2 linked regions of the Homo sapiens genome follow. The protein of the gene in region 2 interacts with the protein of the main gene of each other region in a biochemical or structural test. Each region holds a gene or a part of one and is shown on either strand. Other genes may lie near its edges. The genes, in order: UTS2B and UTS2R.

The links.
Region 1: the proteins of UTS2R (region 2) and UTS2B form a complex in vitro, tested with the Homo sapiens proteins (one study listed by BioGRID).

The regions. Positions count from the first base shown.
Region 1 is NC_000003.12:191,270,120-191,280,004, reverse strand, and holds part of UTS2B (urotensin-2B precursor), read left to right. Parts: intron 1-1,834; coding exon 1,835-1,933; intron 1,934-3,160; coding exon 3,161-3,198; intron 3,199-4,659; coding exon 4,660-4,753; intron 4,754-6,440; coding exon of another isoform or gene 6,441-6,505; exon of another isoform or gene 6,506-6,874; intron 6,875-9,885. UniProt on the Homo sapiens protein: Potent vasoconstrictor.
Region 2 is NC_000017.11:82,366,339-82,376,574, reverse strand, and holds the start of UTS2R (urotensin-2 receptor), read right to left. Parts: upstream 4,811-10,236; 5' UTR 4,528-4,810; intron 3,978-4,527; 5' UTR 3,792-3,977; intron 2,333-3,791; 5' UTR 2,251-2,332; coding exon 1,081-2,250; 3' UTR 1-1,080. UniProt on the Homo sapiens protein: High affinity receptor for urotensin-2 and urotensin-2B. The activity of this receptor is mediated by a G-protein that activate a phosphatidylinositol-calcium second messenger system.

The sequences.
Region 1 (9,885 bases), on a different chromosome or scaffold from region 2:
TGTGTCTACACTCAGATATTTTATATTCAAATATTTCCTTTATTAATATTAACTGTTCAAAGATAGAAACATTAAAAATATATGTGTTTTCTTTTAAAGCTATATCTGTTTTAAAACTAAGTATGAAAACAAGAAACAAAAGACTCATTTTCTATTGCTTTTTTTTAGCCAATATCTTACTTTAGAAATCAACTTTTTAAAATTCCTTGAGAAAAGTTTTTCTTCAGAGACTCCCATAAAAGAGGTTTTTTTCTTAAGAGATAGTGATAAGAAATTTCTGAGGACAAAGAGTTATGGAGGTATAATTATCGGAAGCAAAACTAATAAAGAAAGGCAAATCTATCAGTTTTGTTTTTTGAAAAATGTTTCACTTAACTATGCAGAGGAATGGATTGTGAATTAAGGGGAAAAAAGCTTTAGATCCATACTCTTCTAGTTACATTACTCTTAGTCATATACATTTTCTAAATTGAAGGTAATGGATCTGTTTCTCTTACCATAGTTGTCTTTCTGAAACAAGTAATTATTATCTGGCTCTGAAATATCCCTTCTTTTTTCAATGAAAACATTTTAAAGATTACAATTTAACATTTTTAATGAATGATTAAAATAAAAATTACATTATTTCATAATAATGTTTTTCTTTTAAACTAAACTATCTCTGAGAGTCTTTGTATAATTGATGCTGAGCAAAATTTGATATTCTGTTGGTATTTTAAATACTCAAAAGAAAATTTTACCAATAATTTTTATGTGTATGAAGCAAAGAAAATTGAAGAATTGAGCAACAATTAGGTATCTTTGGTTAATGTAGAAAACTGTGATCCTGTCACTTGCCCCAAATTATTCATTTTCTTCTTTTAATTAGCCATTTAAGTGTTTGAATTTATCAACTGACATTTTGTAGAGACAGGAAAGACAGGTAATTTTAAGAAATAGTCCAGTCAACTTATAAGCCATTTCTCTAGCTGAAACCACAGTACTCACTCCTAAACTTAAATCTCATTAATATTGCTTTTACTCACACTCTAACAGTTAATACAAAGAGGCAGGGAGAAGAAAAGATGATCTTACAGAAATTATGTGATAAAGGTTTGATTTTTCAGACCATCTCACTAAAGTTCATGGTAATATACTAATTATTATTTCAATTGAATTGTCAATGGATTTTTTTTGAATCTTCATGTTTTATAGCTTGCTAGAAGTCTCTTGTCTCAATTTCTACTCCAGAATGAAGATAATTACAGTACTGAGACATTTAGGGACCTGAGGAATGAATGGCTGTGAGGTAAATTGACAAAGATTAAAAGATGTTAATACGGAAGAGGTAGACACCATCCTAGCTTTGCCACAATCTTCCTTGGATGCTTTGAAGGAAATTCCCGGAACACAAACTGGCTTATATATATAAATGTGTATATAAATGTGTATATCAGATAAAATCACAAAATAGAATGCTATATTTTTATTTTGAAAACTACTTTTAGTTTATACTTATTTTAAATAAAATAGTAGAAAATTCCAGAAACACAGATTAAAAAGAAGAAAGTAAAATTCACCTCCAATTCTTCTACTCAGAAGTAATCACAGGTAAAACTTTAGGGTGCAACCTCCAGGTATATGCATATATTCTCTCTCTGTGTCTGTCTGACTGTCCATATTCATTCAATATATATTCAATAATTTCTTAAATTACCCATCCCTTCAGACTATACACTCTCTCTACATTTCTTTCGTTGTCAAATATACAAATTGATAGTAGCCTGTAAGACCAATTTAATTAGAAATATTTTCGGTGACTCAAATTGAAAATGGTGGTTTTTGATCATTATAGGAAATGAAATATTTCCAGATAAAAAATATACAAATCGTGAGGAACTATTGCTGGCTCTACTGAATAAAAATTTTGATTTCCAAAGACCTTTCAACACTGGTGAGTTAAACATAAAGTCAAGCTCTATTTATTAAAAAATAACAATTTATTTTGTCTTGAGACTTGCTTTTTCTAAATGTTAATTTATATTAAATGAAATAATTACTCTTTTATATGCTACACTAAAGATTTAAGTGATTTTTTTGTTTTATATTTATGTTAAATCCATGGAGTTATTAACAAATATTAATAGCCTATTTTGGTCAATTTGAGGGTCCTAATGGGATTGGTAAACATATAGTTAAAAAAAAAGGTTACCTTTATTCATATTTTCTTCTCATCTATGCAATTCTCCACTAGTACCACTAGTATTTTATTTTCTTAAATGTTTCAAAAGTATTATAGTTATAGGTTTCTTCTAGAAATTTCACAAATTAACTGCAGCTTTGTTGTAGTTAATTTAGCATTATTTTAATCAAATTCTTTCAATTTTAGGAAACAGTTGGAGTACAGATGATGAATGAAAAATTTAGGCTACACCAATTGAAATTATTTTTATTTGAAGAACAAGAGAATCTGACTTACAAATATCCATGAGATTGTCCTCCAAGAAATGACTGAGATTTTGTCAGAAATTTAACAAGTCTAGCTTAAGAGAAAATGTGACAATATGATACCGTGCTACTCTCCCATACAACATCTGAAGTAATCTAAACATGTCTGTATTCATAGAACAAAATGCTGGTTAAAAGAATAACTTAATAAATACTTTTAAAATTCAGGGTTTTTAAACTAAAAGTAATATATTCTTATTGAAAAATAAGTGAAATTTATAAAAACAAAAAATTTATACCCAAATTTTAAAACCTGGAGCAAGTTAGCCTTAGTATTTTGGAGAATTTTCTTCTCGATTGAATTATACATAGAATACATGGCTTGCTTCCCCCCGCCCACAACCCCATTTAATGTTGTTTTATGAGAATTTCCACATGCCAGCAAAAATAGTTTATTTCTAAATAATAGGTCATGCTAGAACTATGGTCTACGTTAGAAAAACTTTGTGCTAATTGTTGAAAATTACATATTTCAGATGACATAACTGATTGCATTTCAATACTATGGGCATTGAGAAATATACTGGAGGTTTTATATTAGGAATGGATGGGTGATGTCAAATCATATGAAAAAGACCTATGCTTTCTACGTAAGATCTTAAATGTGTGTACTGAAGCAAATTAAATATTACTTGCAATGTACGTTTTTTCATGTGACAAATGTGTCTTGCAGACCTAGCCTTACCTAACAAACTGGAAGAACTTAACCAGGTGAGAATGTGAAATACTTAAATGAGCAGTTTTAATAACAATTATAAGGAAATTTCTTCTTGACACAATGTTTTTTAAAATAAATTATTAATACTACAATGTAAAACTTTTATTCCTGCTAAACAAAGCGTGAAGCTGTTTTGTAGAAAAAGAAAAATCAAGTTATACTAACACAAAACAAAACAAAACTATGGCTGAAGTGATCATTCTTTATAATGTCTAGAAATCTGGATTCTAATTTTAGCTTTGCAATTACCAAACTGTGAAACCTGGGGCAAACAAATTCTCTAGACTGAAATCTCCTCATCTGTAGAATGGGAGGCTGTAAATAGATGGATGTTATTGTTTTTAAACAGTGGGAATCTTTTTTCCCCCAAATGTTATGTTTTCCCAGCAAATGAAACATGTAAAAGTCAAGCTGTTTGGCTTGAAGCAGCTGGTGTGAAGAGCCTAAAGTGCTGCCTTCTTGACGGGGACCCCTAGTAACACCCTTTTCTCCGTGCAATTCCATTATTCTGCAAACTGGCCCTTTGGGAGAGAGAACTATTCTCATCATTCTCTTCTGAGTAGCACCAACATGGAGATAAAGAGTGGTCCAGGCTGAACCCTACTTTTGTAGTTAGCTCTTCAGGGCCTAAGGCAATTAGTAACCTTATTAAAATTAAAAATTAAAATAAGTTGAATTCTGGATGGAAACCTTAAGGCCTCAAAATACTTTTTCCTTCCAGCTAGAAAAGACAAAAAATTCAGGAAATCCAAGTATTGACACAATAATTTGTAGCTCCTTGAAAAGACCTGCTCATTATAGGTGGCACAAAATGAAGTCCAAGTACACAGGCTGTATTTACATGTTCCCCATTAACACCCAGAGGTGACTTCCTTTGCCCAAAACCTGTTTCTTTCTGATCTTTTGTTGAGTCATGTACCTTTCCTAGTCAGCCCCTGAATGCATGCTCCCTGTTTTTCTTCTCTCTTTTTTGTTTTTTTCTTCCTTTGTTTCTATTTCCCCCTTTTTCTCTCTTCCTTTCTTTCATCCATTTTCTCTCTTTTTTTTTCTTTCTTTTTATCTTTCCTCTTCAACAGAGAGCAGCATGGTTTTTTTTTTGTTGTTTGTTTTTTGTTTTTTTGAGATGGAGTCTTGCTCTGTTGCCCTGGCAGAAGTACAGTGGTGCAATCTCGGCTCACTGCAGTCTCCACCTCCTGGGTTCACGCCATTCTCCTGCCTTAGCCTCCCGAGTAGCTGGGACTACAGGTGCCTGCTACCACGCCCAGCTAATTTTTTGTAGTTTTAGTAGAGGCGGAGTTTCACTGTGTTAGCCAGGATGGTCTTGATCGCCTGACCTCGTGACCTGCCTGCCTCGGCCTCCCGAAGTGCTGGGATTACAGGCATAAGCCACCGCGCCCGGTCAACAGCATGGTTTTATAGAAGACCAATTAATTATCATTTTACAATTTTATCAGCTGGAAAAGCTAAAAGAACAGCTAGTGGAGGAGAAGGATTCTGAGACGTCCTATGCTGTAGATGGTCTATTCTCTTCTCATCCTAGCAAACGAGGTAAGCTTTCATTTCAAGGTTTTAAGATTGACTTCCAAAAGATTATTTTTGCAGTAATTTCTGAGAGGAAGAAGATTCAGTTGGCATTTCTTAATCTTATGGTGGTGACCAATATAAAGGCTCATATTAAAAAAATATATTCCAATAAAAGTGTTACCATATAAATGTATTTGAGCTTTCTGGTGTTTACAACGGGGCAAGTTCACACTTCTCAGGTTTAAATAAAATAGGTCCTTATTGTATAAACTCTGGCTTACTCTTGCTATTTTGGCTTAAACACTGAAGCAGCAAAGACCACAAATAGAAATAATCCATTTTAAGTCAATTTAAAATTCCATAGAATCTATTCTGACATAAGGGGAAACTTCGTTGCTATAACACTTGTTCCAAGGTTCGATTCATAGCATTTAATTTTAGAAAGATTACTTTTTTGGATTATGCTTTTGGATAATTTTTCCTAGGAAATTATTGTTTCTTACTTTGTTTTTATTTTTGAAAAAAATGTATTCCTGTTTCTTTGTTCATGTAGTGATGAGAGATTTCCTAAGTCATATTTATTTTTACTTGTCCCCTATACCAGATTTGTCTTTAACTTCTGTAAAATCATATTTTAACAATATTATTGAGGGAAGAAGATGAACCAGTGTTAAGCCCTAAACATATACCAGACATTTTATATTTTAATGTCTCAAAATATAGTCATTAAGCATTCAGACTCTAGAGCTAGACTGCCTGGGTTCAAATTTTAACTTTGACTACCTACGCAACCTTGGAGAGTTATCTAATTTTCTCTGCCTCATTTTCTTTGCCTAAAAATGCGGATAATGATAATAATCTTCATGGGATTGTTGGGAGGAGTACATGAGTTAATTTAATTTAAAATAATTCCTAGTATGTAGTAAGTACTATGTAAGCTTAACTTAAAAAATTATTTTGATCATTATTACTACAATTATTTTCTACATGAATCCCATACAATAGCTATTAATATGACTTTTTTTATAGACGAGAAAACTGCATCTCAGAAGGGTTAAATTTAATGCTGAAAATAACCCAACTGCTAAGTGACTTAGCCAGTAAGGGTGAAGGATGAAGTGGCAGAAGATGAAGTGGAGGGTAGGAGGGAGGGAATTTAGTGGCTTTTTTTTTTTCTTTGAGACGGAGTTTCACTGCCCAGGCTGGAGTGCAATGGCACAATCTCGGCTCACTGCAACCTCTGTCTCTGGGGTTCAAGCAATTCTCCTGCCTCAGCCTCCCAAGTAGCTGGGATTACAGGCATGCACCATCACTCCCGGCTAAGTTTTGTATCTTTAGTGGAGATGGGTTTCACCATGTTGGTTAGGCTGGTCTGATTCTGGATATATTTCAAATAAAAGTCAACAAAATGTGCTGGAGAATTACACATGAAGTGTAAAAAATAGGCAGGTGTCAAAAATTACTCCAAGGATTTTGTTTTGAGCAACTAGGAACAAAGGACAGTTTCTGTTTATTGAGCCAAGGATAACTGGAGGAGAAGAAAGTACAAGAGAAAGGTTGAAATAGAGATTTGTTGGACCTTTCCTGAATCAGTATAGCTTAGGCTATTAGGTGTTAACAGTTGTAATCTAAATCTCAGAGGCATGGTGTAATAAAGTCGGGAATCGAGTCCAATGCTTGCAGCACAGCACAGCACCACTCTATTCTGTAGCCCTATCATCCAGAACGTTGATACAGCTTAACTGCCTCCAACATTGCCAAAACAGAAGAGGATAAAGGATACATCCCAGCTTTCAATTGCCTCAGTTCGGAAGGGACACACATCATTTCTACTGAAGTCCATTGGCCGGGATTAGTCACTGGGACTACCACCAACATATGGCAAGGCAGGTTGGTAAATGTAAGGAAGTACCTATAGTACTTGGTGAGCACTGCCTCTATCATAGTCTATCCTTTATCTCTTCTTAAAAACATAGACTATACTCAACTCATTCTCATTAGAGACAACCCCAAATCTCTTCTAGTGACTGCATGCAGCACAAATAACAGGCTTTCCAGGATATATTTACTAGTCTTCATCAGATATAATGTGGCCACTCCTTTTTTTTGAGACGGAGTCTCGCTCTGTAGCCCAGGCTGGAGTGCAGTGGTGCGATCTCGGCTCACTGCAACCTCTGCCTCCCAGGTTCCAGCTATTCACCTGCCTCAGCCTCCCGAGTAGATGGGACTACAGGTGGGCGCCACCAAGCCCAGCTAATTTTTTTGTATTTTTAGTAGAGATGGGGGTTTCATCATGTTGGCCAGGCTGGTTTCAAACTCCTGACCTCAGGTGATCCACCTGCCTTGAGCTCTCAAAGTGCTGGGATTACAGACATGAGGCACTGTGCCCTGCCCATTTTTTTTTTTTTTTTTTAGACGGAGTTTTGCTCTTGTTGCCTAGGCTGGAGTGCAATGGCACGCTACCTCGGCTCACTGCAACCTTCGCCTTTTGGGTTCAAGCTATTCTCCTGCCTCAGCCTCCCAAGTAGCTAGGATAACAGGCACGCACCACCACGCCCAGCTAATTTTTTGTATTTTCAGTAGAGACAGGTTTCACCATATTGGCCAGGCTGTTCTCGAACTCCTGACCTCAGGTGATCCACCCGCTTCTGCCTCCCAAAGTGCTGGGATTACAGGCATGAGCCACCATGCCCAGCCAAGCTACTCTTCATTCACAGACCTATTAACTGAAAAGATGAGTTATTATTCACCCCATACATATCCAACAATTAGCAAAGGAACAGGGAAAGGATAATCGCAATCAACAGCAAACTAAATATACTGCTTGCCAATTTACTCTTTTCCAGCCTTTCTTCTAGGAGCTCTAGGCACATGATCTGAATCCCAAGCTGTTGCAGATGCGAGTTTTAGCACTTATTTTGCCATTTAATAAAATAACTCTTAATTTTTCAAACCTATGATATCAGTTTCCTTGTCTGCCATTAATGAGTTGCTGATACTGTGTCAGATTTTAGGTATGTTTTACAGCAGCACCCTCACTTCACGTTATCAAACTGTATATTGGGATATGCTTAGCAAGCTGATAAAATAGCCTTTAAATCTCAGTGATGCAACTTTCTATAATTTTGACCGAGTTTACATGAGGTCTTACATATGTTGACCATTTTTCCTTCACTTCATGCATACACTATGTGGAACACGTGGTCTCCAATGTACCTATAGTAGGATAGGAAAGAGATGAAGCAGGTAAATATGCTTTTAACTGCCAGAGCTATGCACATGATCCCAATTTAACTTAATGGGGATGTGGGATCCCTAGGAAATACAGAGAAGTCTTAGGAATAGCTGAAGAGTTGTATTCCTACCACATATTTTGGGTTTGTTATGCCATATTTAATAAATCTTCCAGGAGTAAATTGAGTAGAAGATTAGATGTATGAATCTGAAGTTAGTGAATATGAATCTTATATCTTCAGTCAGCCCAGATTAGAGATATACATTTGGCAGTTATCAGCATTATAAATATTGTTTGGCATTGTGACGAGAGCATCTAAGGAGTGACTCCAAATATAAGGAAAAGATACCTAAAAACTGAGACTCAGATCATTCCAAGGGAAGAAACTGAGCAGATGAGGCAGAGTCAACAAAAGAGGCTGAGTAGGAGTAGGTACAAAGAAGGAGGCAAGAAAGCAACACCCACAAGTCAAGTAAAAAAACTGTTTCTGGGAAAAAGGAGTTTAAGTCTATCCAAAGCTATTGTTACCAAAACACCAGGGGTTCAGTCTAGGTCCTACAGCTCACTGCACAGAAAGCTGATCACTGAGACAAGTATTGCCAAGGAAGAAGGCTTTAATTGGGTGCTGCAGCTGAGGAGATGGAAGCTCAGTCTCAAATCCATCTCTCTAACTCACTAAAACTAGGGTTAATATAGCAGGGAAGAAATGTAACTACGTGTGAGAAAGGCAAGGAAGCAATCATAATGAATGAGTGGTCCAATATCTCATTGTCTGGATGGGGTGATCTGGTGAGTTTCAGTTCTTTGATACCTCTTTTTTTTTTTTTTTTTTTTTTTTTTGAGAGAGTCTCACTCTGTCACCAGGCTGGAGTGCAGTGGTGTGATCTCTGCTCACTGCAACCTCTGCCTCCCGTGTTCAAGCGATTCTTCTGCCTCAGCCACCCAAGTAGCTGGGACTACAGGCATGTGGCCACCACCCTCAGCTAATTTTTGTATTTTTAGTAGAGACAGGATTTCACCATGTTGGTCAGAATGGTCTCGATCTCCTGACCTCATGTCTGCCAGCCTCGTCCTCCCAAAGTGCTGGGATTACAGGCATGAGCCACCACAACTGGCCCTTTGACAGTTTTTTTTGGGAGGCCTAAAGGTCATTTCCTGAGGAAGAAACTCACCTAAAACAAATACAAGCTTTAAGCTTTAACAGCAGAAGGGTCAATTTCTGATTATCCAAAAACAACTCTCTATGGGTCTATGGGGCTGATTTCACTATGATAGATCCAGTAAAATGAGGACTGAGAACTTCCAGTTGAATTCAGCAGAGGAAAGGTCATTAATGGCCTTGCCAAGGATTGTTTGGTGAACTTTTTGTTAAAGAAAACATGACTATAGAACTGGAACCACTGACAATAGAAAATTCTCTTAAAGAATTTTGTGCTAAGGAATAGAAAAAAAATTGGTATATCAGCTAGAATGATTTGAAAGCATAAAAAAAAAACCTTTTTTGTTTATTTTTAAGAAAGTAGATATTACAACATGTTTGTAGGTCAGGTACCAGTGGCTCACACCTGCAATCCCACTACTTTGGGAGGCCAAGGCAGGAGAATCACTTGTGCCCAATCGTCTGAGACCAGCCTGGCCAATATAGGGAGGCTGTGTCTCTACAACAAATTTAAAAAATTAGCCTGGTGTGGTGACCCATGCTAGTAGTCCCAAGTACTCATGAGATTGAGACTGGAGGGTCCCTTGAGCCAAGGAGTTCGAGGTTGCAGTGAGCTATGGTTGTGCCACTGCACTCCAGCTTCGGTGACAAAGCTGAACATAATCCACGTTATACATGAAGTGCAGTGCTGTTGCCATAACTAGAGACTAACCACTGTGAATAACAATATATGAGGATGAAATAGACCCAGAAATCCAGCTT
Region 2 (10,236 bases):
GACGCCGGCCACAGTCCTGCCAGCAGAGCTGTGCTCACTCCACTGAGGGGTAGGCACTGGAGGGACCAAGCGGGCATGACCCTTGCCCCAGTGTTCAGATGGAGCCCCAAGGGGCTGGTAGTCTGGGCATGGCCATGGGGTGGGGAGGGGAGGCCAGGCTGGGGGAGGCCATGCAGGGTCCGGGGCCGGGCTGGGGGCTGGAGGGGGGCAGTCGCCAGAGAGAGGATGGTTGGCCAAGCTGGGAGCTGGGGCAGGAAGTCTGTCCAGGAGGCAGTGAGGGGTGAGTGGGGCAGAGACTGCCAATGCTACTGTGAGGTGGGACCTGGATTCCCTTTCTGATCAGACCTGAGCCAGACGTGGATGAGAGGCCAGGAGGCCTGTAGGTGCGGCCACTGACCTTGTCCTCTTGCGTTCTGCACCCAAAGCCTCAGGCCTCTGCTGGGCAGTGCCTTCCCTGCTCCACCCCTCAGCTGGAGCCTCCCCTCCTGGCCACCTTCCCTGCCCCACATCAGGTGCCAGACCAGCCGCCTGCACAGGCCTCAAAGGCAGGTGCACCCTCTACCCCAGCCAGACCCACAGGCTCCCCCTTGAGCTGCCGTTGTCGTCCTGGGGATCCTGCCGGCCGATCCTCCCACACCTCAGATGTGGCGTCCCCCGCGCCTAGGCAGGACACGGAAGCCAGCTCAGGGTTGATTGTTCCAGTGGCAAAGCCACAAGGGATGGAGCCACACAGGCAGGAACAGGAGTCACAGGGCCGCTGGCTGAGAGGAGGAGGGTCCCGGGGGCGGCAGCCGCGCCATGGTCTCCACACGGGCCGGGCACTGGCGCCTGCTGCCCTCTGTGACGAAGCCATGGTCTCCAGAAGCCGGGACTGCGCTGGAGCCTCCTGGAGACCCTCAGGGAGGCGGGTGGGCGCTTCTGGGCATCACGGGAAGGGCGCTGAGGGGAAGCGAGCAGGATCTTTCCAGAAGGGGACGGAGGAGGGGCAGGGCCTGTGATTTGGGAGTTGGGGGGGCTCCCGGGAGTGGCTGGGGCTTTGGGGCGCGTCCCCGCCTGGACTCCAGCCGCCCCTCCGCGTGCTCACGCCGGGGCCCTGGGACCCTCGGGCGCAGGTCGGGCCGGGGCCGCTGGGGCCAGCACGAGGCTGTCAGTGGGCTGTGGGCTGCAGGAAGACAGGGAGCGGCCCGAACAGCGCTGGAAGCGGGCGCGGGGCTGCAGGGAGGGAACGGGCCCCCGGCCTCCCCCGCTGCCCGGGCCCCGCACGCGGCCGCGCAGGTGGTCGCGGTAGTTCCTGGTGAGCAGCGTGTAGAGGAAGGGGTTGGCGCAGCTGTTGCCGTAGGTGAGGCAGGTGGTCAGGTAGTTGACGATGCGCGCCGTCCGCGGCGCCAGCGGGGCCTGGTGGTACTGGGCGAGCAGCTGCCACAGCCAGAAGGGCAGGAAGCAGGCCCAGAAGAGCAGCACGATGCCCAGCACCAGGCGCAGCGCGCGCGCCCCCGGCCGCCGGGCCCGCTTGAAGGAGGCGCGCTGCGAGCGGCGGTAGGCGCGGGCCAGGCGCGCGTAGAGCAGCCCGATGAGCAGCCCGGGCCCCGCGATGCTGGTGGCGAAGAGCAGCGTCAGGTAGGCGCGGTGGGCGCGCGGGCCCCAGGCGGGCAGGCACAGGCTCTTGGGACCCCGGCGCACCAGCCGCATGGCCAGCATCACGGGCAGCGTCAGCAGCAGCGCCAGCAGCCAGGTGCCCAGCGCCAGCAGCTTGCGGTAGCCCTTGGGGCGCTGCACGGTGTCCAGCGGCCGCAGCACCGCAGCGTAGCGCTCGCTGCTCATGACGGTCAGCGTGAAGATGCTGGCGTGCATGGTCAGGAAGTCCAGGCCGAAGAGCACGCGGCAGCCCACGTCCCCGAAGTGCCACTCCTTGGTGACGTAGGTGGCCACGATGAAGGGGATGCTGAGCAGGTACAGCAGGTCGGCCAGCGCCAGGTTGACCACGTAGACGTACATGGAGGCCACCGCACGCAGGGAGCGGCAGGTGACCACCAGCGTGTAGGCGTTGCCCACCACGCCCACCACGCCCATGGCCGACAGCAGAGTCCCAATGGTGCCCGTGGCCACCAGGTCCTCCAGGGAGCTGGGCTCGGTCGGGCTGGCCCAGGAGCTGTTGAGGGTTGCGTTGGGGCCGCCAGGCGGCTCCGGCACAGAGCTGCCAGTGGCGGCCAGCCCAGGGAAGCTGCTCGGGGACTCGGGGGTCAGCGCCATCTCTGACCCCTCACGACGGGCTCAGGGCTGGGTGGACACTCCCTGAGATGGGGCGGGGGCCCCTGTGGGCAACCAGCTCAGCCTGTGGGGAAAGAAGCAAATCAGGCAACACCTTCCGCTCCCAGGAGGCCACTGTGATGGCCTCGTTCCCACAGAGTCACGTGGGCTCCCCAGTGCCCTCCAACTCTCGGGACTCTCTGGAAGCCACCAGCTCTGCAGGAGGACTCAAGAGCCACCAGACGAGCTGCCCCAACCCCCCTCCCCGACCCCCGCATGCCCCAGCAGGACCCCTGCCCCCCCCTCACTGTAGGTCCCATGGCCTCTGGGATGAACTGGGCTTTTCTGAAAGCCGGAACACAGGAGGGCAGCCCCTGGGGCAGAGGTCGGCAGTGGACAGAACTGGGAGTCCTGGGCTCTGCCCATTGCGCCCCCCCAGGCCTCACTTTCTTGTCTGTGCACAGGTGGGGCCCACTTACTCCTGAGTCCTTTCTCGTATTTATTTGACTTGTACATTTAAAAAAATGTTTTCTTTAGATTGCAAAACTAGTAGCTACTGACTTTAAAAGTCCAAATAGAAGAACATGTAAGGAGAGGAAGGCCTCTGCAATCTCCATTTCTCATACAGGGAAACGAATTCAAGATGGATTGCAGGCCTAAGTGTGAAAGGTTAAATCAGTCAGTCGAGGTTCTGGAAGAAAACGGGAATACTGGCATAACCTTGGATGGGAAAATATTTCTTAAAAATGAACAAAAAATACTTTCAATAAAAGACTAAGCAAATGGGTTTCATTAAAATTAAGAACTTTACCAAGAGAGCGAAATCATAAGCCACAGGCTAGGAGATCATCAGAAAACATATATCAGGCCAGTTGCAGTGGCTCACGCCTGTAATCCCAGCACTTTAGGAGGCCTAGGCAAGTGGATCACCTGAGGTCAGGAGTTCGAAACCGGCCTGGCCAACATCTCGAAACCCCGTCTCTACTAAAAATACAAAAATTAGTCGGGCATGGTGGCACACGCCTGTAATCCCAGCTGCTCGGGAGGCTGAGGCAGGAGAATTGTTTGAACTCGGGAGGTGGAAGTTGCAGTGAGCCAAGATTGAGATTGTGCCACCGCACTCCAGCCTGGGCAACAAAGTGAGACTTTGTCTCAGAGAAAAAAAAAAAGAAGAAACATAGACAAAAAGCTGGTAAGAAAAATATAGGGAAGAACTGCAAATTAGTAAGGAAAAGACAAACAACCCATTTGAAAAAAAGAGACCAAAACCGTGACCGGGGACTTCCTGAAAAGGACACCCACGCAGCCAACAAGCAGGGAAATGCCAGTCAGGGCCACAGGAGCCCCTGCGTGCTGACAAGGATGAACGCGTGAAAAGGCAGATATCCTTGTCAACAGGCGTGGGGGCTGTGGAGGAGCTGGCCCTGCCGTTTCCTGTTGCTGGGAACCTGGACTGTGCCGCCGCTTTGGAAAGCCATTGGCACGATTTGCAGAGTTGACCGCCTATACCTTCTCACCCGGCAATTCTACTCTCAGGTTAGTACCTTAGATAAAGGGCTGCCAACGTTCAGAAAATGACAAGCGTGCGAAAGTTCACGGCAGCTTGACTCCTAAGAAGCTGGAAACAGCTCAAATGTCCCCAGTGGACGGGGCAGGCAAACTGTGACATGAAGCCAGTGAAGGAGTCGCCGCTGGGGTCAGCAGCCTGGATGAAACAGCGCGGTGGTGGGCTGAAGAAACAAGACACAGGAGGCTGCCTGATTCCACGAGCCACGCTGAATTTAGGCCGAACACTCATGGCTGCGCAGGGAGCAGTCTTGGCTGGGGTGGGGAGTTGTCAACAGGTGGGGGCGCTGGGGGCCTTCCAGGGCCTGGAAATGTGCCCTGTCCGCCCTTTCCCACCAGGCCGAGCAGCTCCCAGCTCCATCTGTCCAGGGGACCCTCACCCCCTTGCTGCCCCCACCCAGGGCATTTCCAGAGCCCTCACCCAGGGGACGGCGCAGAAGCCGAGGGTGCACCGGGCTCCCCAGTTGTGCGCGAGCCCGAGTCACGGGCAGGGGGACAGCGGCCGCCGGGCCGCTAGGATTGCTCCAGGGTCGCTAGGGGGGAAGGGGAGGGGCCGAAAGTTCCACGGCACGGGAGAAGCCGCCTCGCTGGACCCCGCTCCCCTCGCCCAGGGTGGGTTCCCACCGCGAAACCCCGGCCCAGCCCTGCGGAGGGCCCCGAAGGGCACAGACCCGGCAGTCCCCGCGCGCTCCCGGTCACCCACCGAGGACCCACCTGCCTCCGGTCACTGAGCGGCCAGACCTGCCCGCCGAGCCTGGGGTCGCGCGTGGGGGCAGCCGCTCGCGGCTCCAAACTCCTCGCGCAGCGGGGCCGCGGGGAACTTTCCGAGGCGCGCTCCCCTGTCCCAGCGCAGAGGGGGCGCGAGGGGCTCCGCGGTGGCCTCGGCTTCCAGAGCACACGGCAGGGGCGCCCGCCAGTCCCGCCACCAAAGCCGCGCCCCCCGCCCCGCGCCGGGTCTCTGCGCCGCCGCCACCTGCCCGCCGCCAGCTGGGAATGCGCCGCGCCCCGCGCCAGGGCCCGGTATTAAAATAACCCCAGCGGGCAGCAGGCGCGCGGAGGGGACGGCGCCGGGTGTCTAGGGGGCGGCGCTGACCGCGCGGCGCCGGGAAGACGCGGGGGTCGCGGGGCCGCAGCGGGGTCGGCGGAGGGTCCCAGGCGGGTCTCGCGTCTGCGTCTGCGGAGCGAAGCTGCCTCCAGCCCGGCTGCCCCAAGGCTGACCCCGCAGCCCCTCTTGGGTTCTCCGCCTCCAGCGTTCACCCCTGCGCCCCTCACGCCCGTGTTTGCAGGGCACGGAGCCTGGGATTCTCCGTGTCCACCAAGCCCTGGACCCGCCCGCGCGCAGGTGGGGGGCAGGAACACCCCTAAACCCCGAGAGGGTCATAGAAAGGAGGTAAGGGAGGGAGGGAGTCACCCGCCCAGGCGGGGACGGGCTCTTTGGGGGCCTTGACCCCGCCCCTGTTGCGGGTCTCCCACAGATGCTCTTAGAAGCCCACGCAGCCTCTCCAGGCCTCGGCAGGGACTCGTGGTGGCCACATCCACGGAAGTGACGCTGGGAGCTGCAGGGCCCCGCGGGGTAGGAGGAAGGACCCCACAGCCTCACCCTCGAGCCCCTGAGCTGGGTGCTGGCCCCCACTCGGTTTCACTTGCTGCTCGGAGGTAGGATGTGGGCCTTCACTCATGCTGAACCCCTGAAAGAAAAAGACACAGAACATTAATAAATTAGACTAGAGGAGAGCTGGAGAGCTGTGAACACGGGGTCTAAAGGGCCCCCAGCGAGGAGCTGGCCTCGCCCACTCCACTCCGCCCGGGGCTCATCTGCTGCCTGAGGCCGCGGACCGGCCCCTAAAGCTGAAGGGGTTCTGCTGGGGGAGAGGAGGTGGCCAAGTGTGAATGGCCGAGAGGCTCCTGCAATCAGCTGGATCCGGGGGAGCCCCAGATGCCCACCAGTCCCCTCCGTGGGACGTTTGCCACGTGCTGGGGAGGCGAGGCTGGGCTGGAGAGGGCGGGAAAAGTCCCTCTGGTCTCCGAGCGTCCGCTGGACGGAGCAAGGGTCACACAATAAGACAGTTCATTCTCTGTGAGCTGAAAACAGCCGAACTGAAACCAAATACAGCTGCAGCTTCCGACCCGAAAGGGGAGCAGCTCATCCTGCCTGTGCGCGGGAGGAAAGGGGGTGGAAGGCTGCCTCCGACGTGATGGTTCTGTGAGAGCTGATTACTAAGCTGGAGTCTAGGGGCTAGGGCTGGGGAAAAGCACTCAGGACCCAGAATGCCTGCTCCAAGAATTAAATTTCCCGCAAGCCAGCTGCCGAAACGATCTGCTGTCACCTCAGCCAGTTCACCGAGTAGCTGCTGAAACGACCTGCCCTGACACGAACACCGGGTTTTTTATTTTTTATTTTATTTTTTTATTATTTATTTATTTATTTTTTTGAGATGGGGTCTCACTCTTTCACCCGGGCTGGAGTGCAGTGGTGCGATCTCGGCTCACTGCAACCTCGGCTCACTGCAACCTCCACCTCCCAGGCTCAAGCAATTCTCCTGCCTCAGCCTCCCAAGTAGCTGGGATTACAGGCACCCGCCACCACACCCAGCTAATTTTTGTGTTTGTAGTAGACGGGGTTTCATCATGTTGGCCGGGTAGGTCTCGAACTCCTGAGCTCAGGTGATCTGCCCACCTCAGCCTCCCAAAGTGCTAGGATTACAGGCGTGAGCCACCGTGCCTGGCCTCCAGTGCTGGTTTTACCACTGAGGCCACTCGCCTGAGCTTGCCAGCTCCCCCGAACTACCAGTGCCAACGGGCTTTCTTTCAAAGCAATAGATAACGTTTCTCTTTCCAAAAGAATCCCGATTTTCTTTTGTTCTTGAACATACCGAATTGAAATTCTTCCTAAAATTAAACATTAAACTTAAAGATTTGTCTGTATATTTGGACTTTGACAGTTGCTATGTATAAAATGCTTCAGCAAGGAAATAATAATCTGATTATTGTTTCCTTGCTGCTTCATATCTTATGTGATCCATAATTGATGGGGGAAAAATAGCCGATAGAAGCAGGTCCATATGTGACACAAGTATTGGAATTAGCAGACCAGGAGTTTCTGTTTTACAAAAACTGTTACAAATATAGTAAAGCAAGCAGAAGAACCTGGGCAACATGCATGAAAAGATGGAAATTTTCACCAGAAAATGGGAATGTATTTCTTTCTTTATTTGAGACAGGGTCTCGCTCTAAGGTCTAGCCTAGGCTCGCCCAGGCTGGAGTGCAGGGGTGTGATCATGGCTCACCGCAGCTTTCTTTGACTTCCTACACTCAAGCAATTCTCCTACCTCCCGAGTAGCTGGGACTACAGACATGCACCGCTACACTACACTTGGCTAATTTTTGTATTTTTTGTAGAGACAAGTTTCACCATGTTGCCCAGCCACTACGCCCAACCCCATTTGACTCTTTTATTAGAAATTCCCAGGCTGGGCACTGTGGCTAACACCTGTAATCCCAGCACTTTTTTTTTTTTTTTTTTTTTTGAGATGGAGTCTCACTCTGTCGCCCAGGCTGGAGTGCAGTGGCGTGATCTTGACTCACTGCAACCTCCGCCTCCCAGGTTCAAGCAATTCTCTGCCTCAGCCTCCCGAGTGACTGGGATTACAGGTGCCCACCACCACACCCAACTAATTTTTGTATTTTTTTTTTTTTTTTTGAGACAGAGTCTCGCTGGTCGCCCAGGCTGGAGTGCAGTGGCGCAATCTCGGCTCACTGCAAGCTCTGCCTCCCGGGTTCATGCCATTCTCCTGCCTCAGCCTCCCGAGTAGCTGGGACTACAGGTGCCCACCACCGTGCCTGGCTAATTTTTTGTATTTTTAGTAGAGACGGGGTTTCACTGTGTTAGCCAGGATGGTCTCGATCTCCTGACCTCGTGATCCGCCCGCCTCGGCCTCCCAAAGTGCTGGGATTACAGGTGCCCACCACCGCTCTCAGCCTAATTTTTGTATTTTTAGTAGAGATGGGCTTTCACTATCTTGGCCAGGCTGGTCTTGAACTCCTGACCTCGTGATCTGCCCACCTCGGCCTCCCAAAGTGCTAGGATTACAGGCATGAGCCACCGCACCCGGCCAATCCCAGTACTTTTGAAAACTGAGGCAGGATGATCACTCGAGTCTAGAAGTTTGAGACCAGCCTGGGCACATAATGAGACCCTCCATTTCTATTTCTAAAAAAATTTTTTAAAGGGTGAAGGAAATAATGTATACAGTGGTCCATTTCCAAGACAGTGTGCCTTGAATCGGCTTAGGTCAGCAAACTACAGAAGAACAGGATATACTAGGCCCCAGCTTGGATAGTGGATGCCTGCTTGTCGGCCTCATCCACTCCCTTTTAACCCCCTCTTAGTTGCCCTCACCCAAATCAAAGAAGTTTAAGATGAAATTTTACTAGCCTGCAAAATAGCTGGTTTGATCTATTCTTATCAGCCTGCCCAGCTACTTAGGTCATAAGTCAAATACTTAAAGAGCCCCTGAGCTAACTAGGATTGCAATGCATTGTGGGCTGCAACAAAATGCAGCAGGACAACCCTGAAGAAAACACCTACAGCACCTGCCCAACAACCAATAGGCGACATCCGGGAAGATTGTGACCCGAGAGTACTCAGCCTATGAGGAACCTGGGGAGGGACCTGCACCCTGCAGCCCCTGCCCAACAACCAATAGGCGACATGCAGGAAGACTGTGATCCCCTAGTACTCAGCCTATGAGGAAGCTGGGGAGGGACCTGTGCCCTACAGCCCCTGCCCAACAACCAATAGGCGACATGCGGGAAGACTGTGACCCCAGAGTACTCAGCCTATGAGGAACCGGGGGAGGGATCTGTGCACTAGGGGATAAATTGCTTGTTGAAACTGCTGGGTGTGCCTGCCCACCAGACACCCGATCTTGCCGTCATTAAAAGCCTCGCTTTCGCTGTTCTCCAGGTCCCTGAGTCAGTTCTTTGGATTTGGACGGATGAGTTTCTTTCTCACAAGGGTCAAATGGACATTTTATAACTTTTAAAAGTACAGTATCTAAAATTCAGAAATCACAGCAGAAGAAAGAATCAGTTAACTTAAAGGTAGGTCAATAGAAATTATCCAGACACAGAAAGAGAAAAGAATGAAAAACAGAAAAGCCTGTGGAACCACACCATCAAATGATCTGACGTACATGTCACTGGAGTCCCCAGATCAACAACAGAGGAAAATGGGGCAGGAGCAATATCTGAAAAGGCAGTGGCTGAAATTTTCAAAATTGATAAGCAATGTCAACTTACAGACATTAGAATCTTAGTAAATCACAAGCAGGAAAAAACTAAAAGCAAACAACTCCAGCGCATTGTAGTAAAAAATTCCAAAAACCAAAGGTAAACAGAAACTGTAAAAATTATTGAGATTAAAAAAAAAAAAAAGACAATGCATTCAGGGAATAACAATAGGAAAGATGACTAGATCTCCTCAGAAAACCATGGAAACCGAAAGAGAATGACCTCTTTAAAGTACCAAAATAAAGAATTTTAACCAACAATTTATGTACAATAAAATATAGATACTTTCAGACAAAGCTAAGAACATTTGTCACAGCACAAAAAAATACTAAAGGAGCTCCTCAGGCTTTCCTTCTGCTGACAGAAAATGACCCCAGATAGAAACTCGGAAGTGCATGGAAAAATGAAGTGCACCAGGAAGGTAAATATGTTTGTAAATTAAAAAGATGAGGACTATGCAGCAATAGCTCTGGTGGCGCATGATGATGATAACACGTGTCAACTAATATCCAAGACAACAATAGCACCAGGTCTCTGGAGAAGGGTGAGTGAAATTACACAGTTGGAAAGCTCTTTGTTGTTGTGTAAGAATTCACATTTCAGGCCGGGCGCGGTGGCTCACACCTGTAATCCCAGCGCTTTAGTGCAAAGTGGCTCTGCCTGCCTATGATTCACTTTATGGACCATTAAATCATAAATCATAATCATAAAGCTCCCATTTTCCACAAATGTGACTTTTGAAGCTTTGCTCTGCACTTAATGGGTTCATTATGTTTTGCAATGATAATTTTTGTGAAAGAAGTACTTTCCAATTGGATTACTAAATTCTGTAGAAAATGAGGTTCCACAGACAGAGCTGGTTTCATGGGGCTCTTTTCAGGTGCCCATCCAGCCTGATGTTTGTGTTTTTCAGACTTGAAGAGGATGCTTTGTTCAGAACCCACTCCACCTCTCAGGTGCTTAGAGACCAGAGGCCCATCCTGCCGCAGACACTGGGGCAGAGATGCTTGATGAAAATAAGGGAACGTGGCCGAGCGCAGTGGCTCATATCTGTAATCCTAACACTTTGGGAGGCTGAGGTGGGAGGATCGCTTGAGCCCAGGAGTTCAAGGCCAGCCCGAGCAACATAGT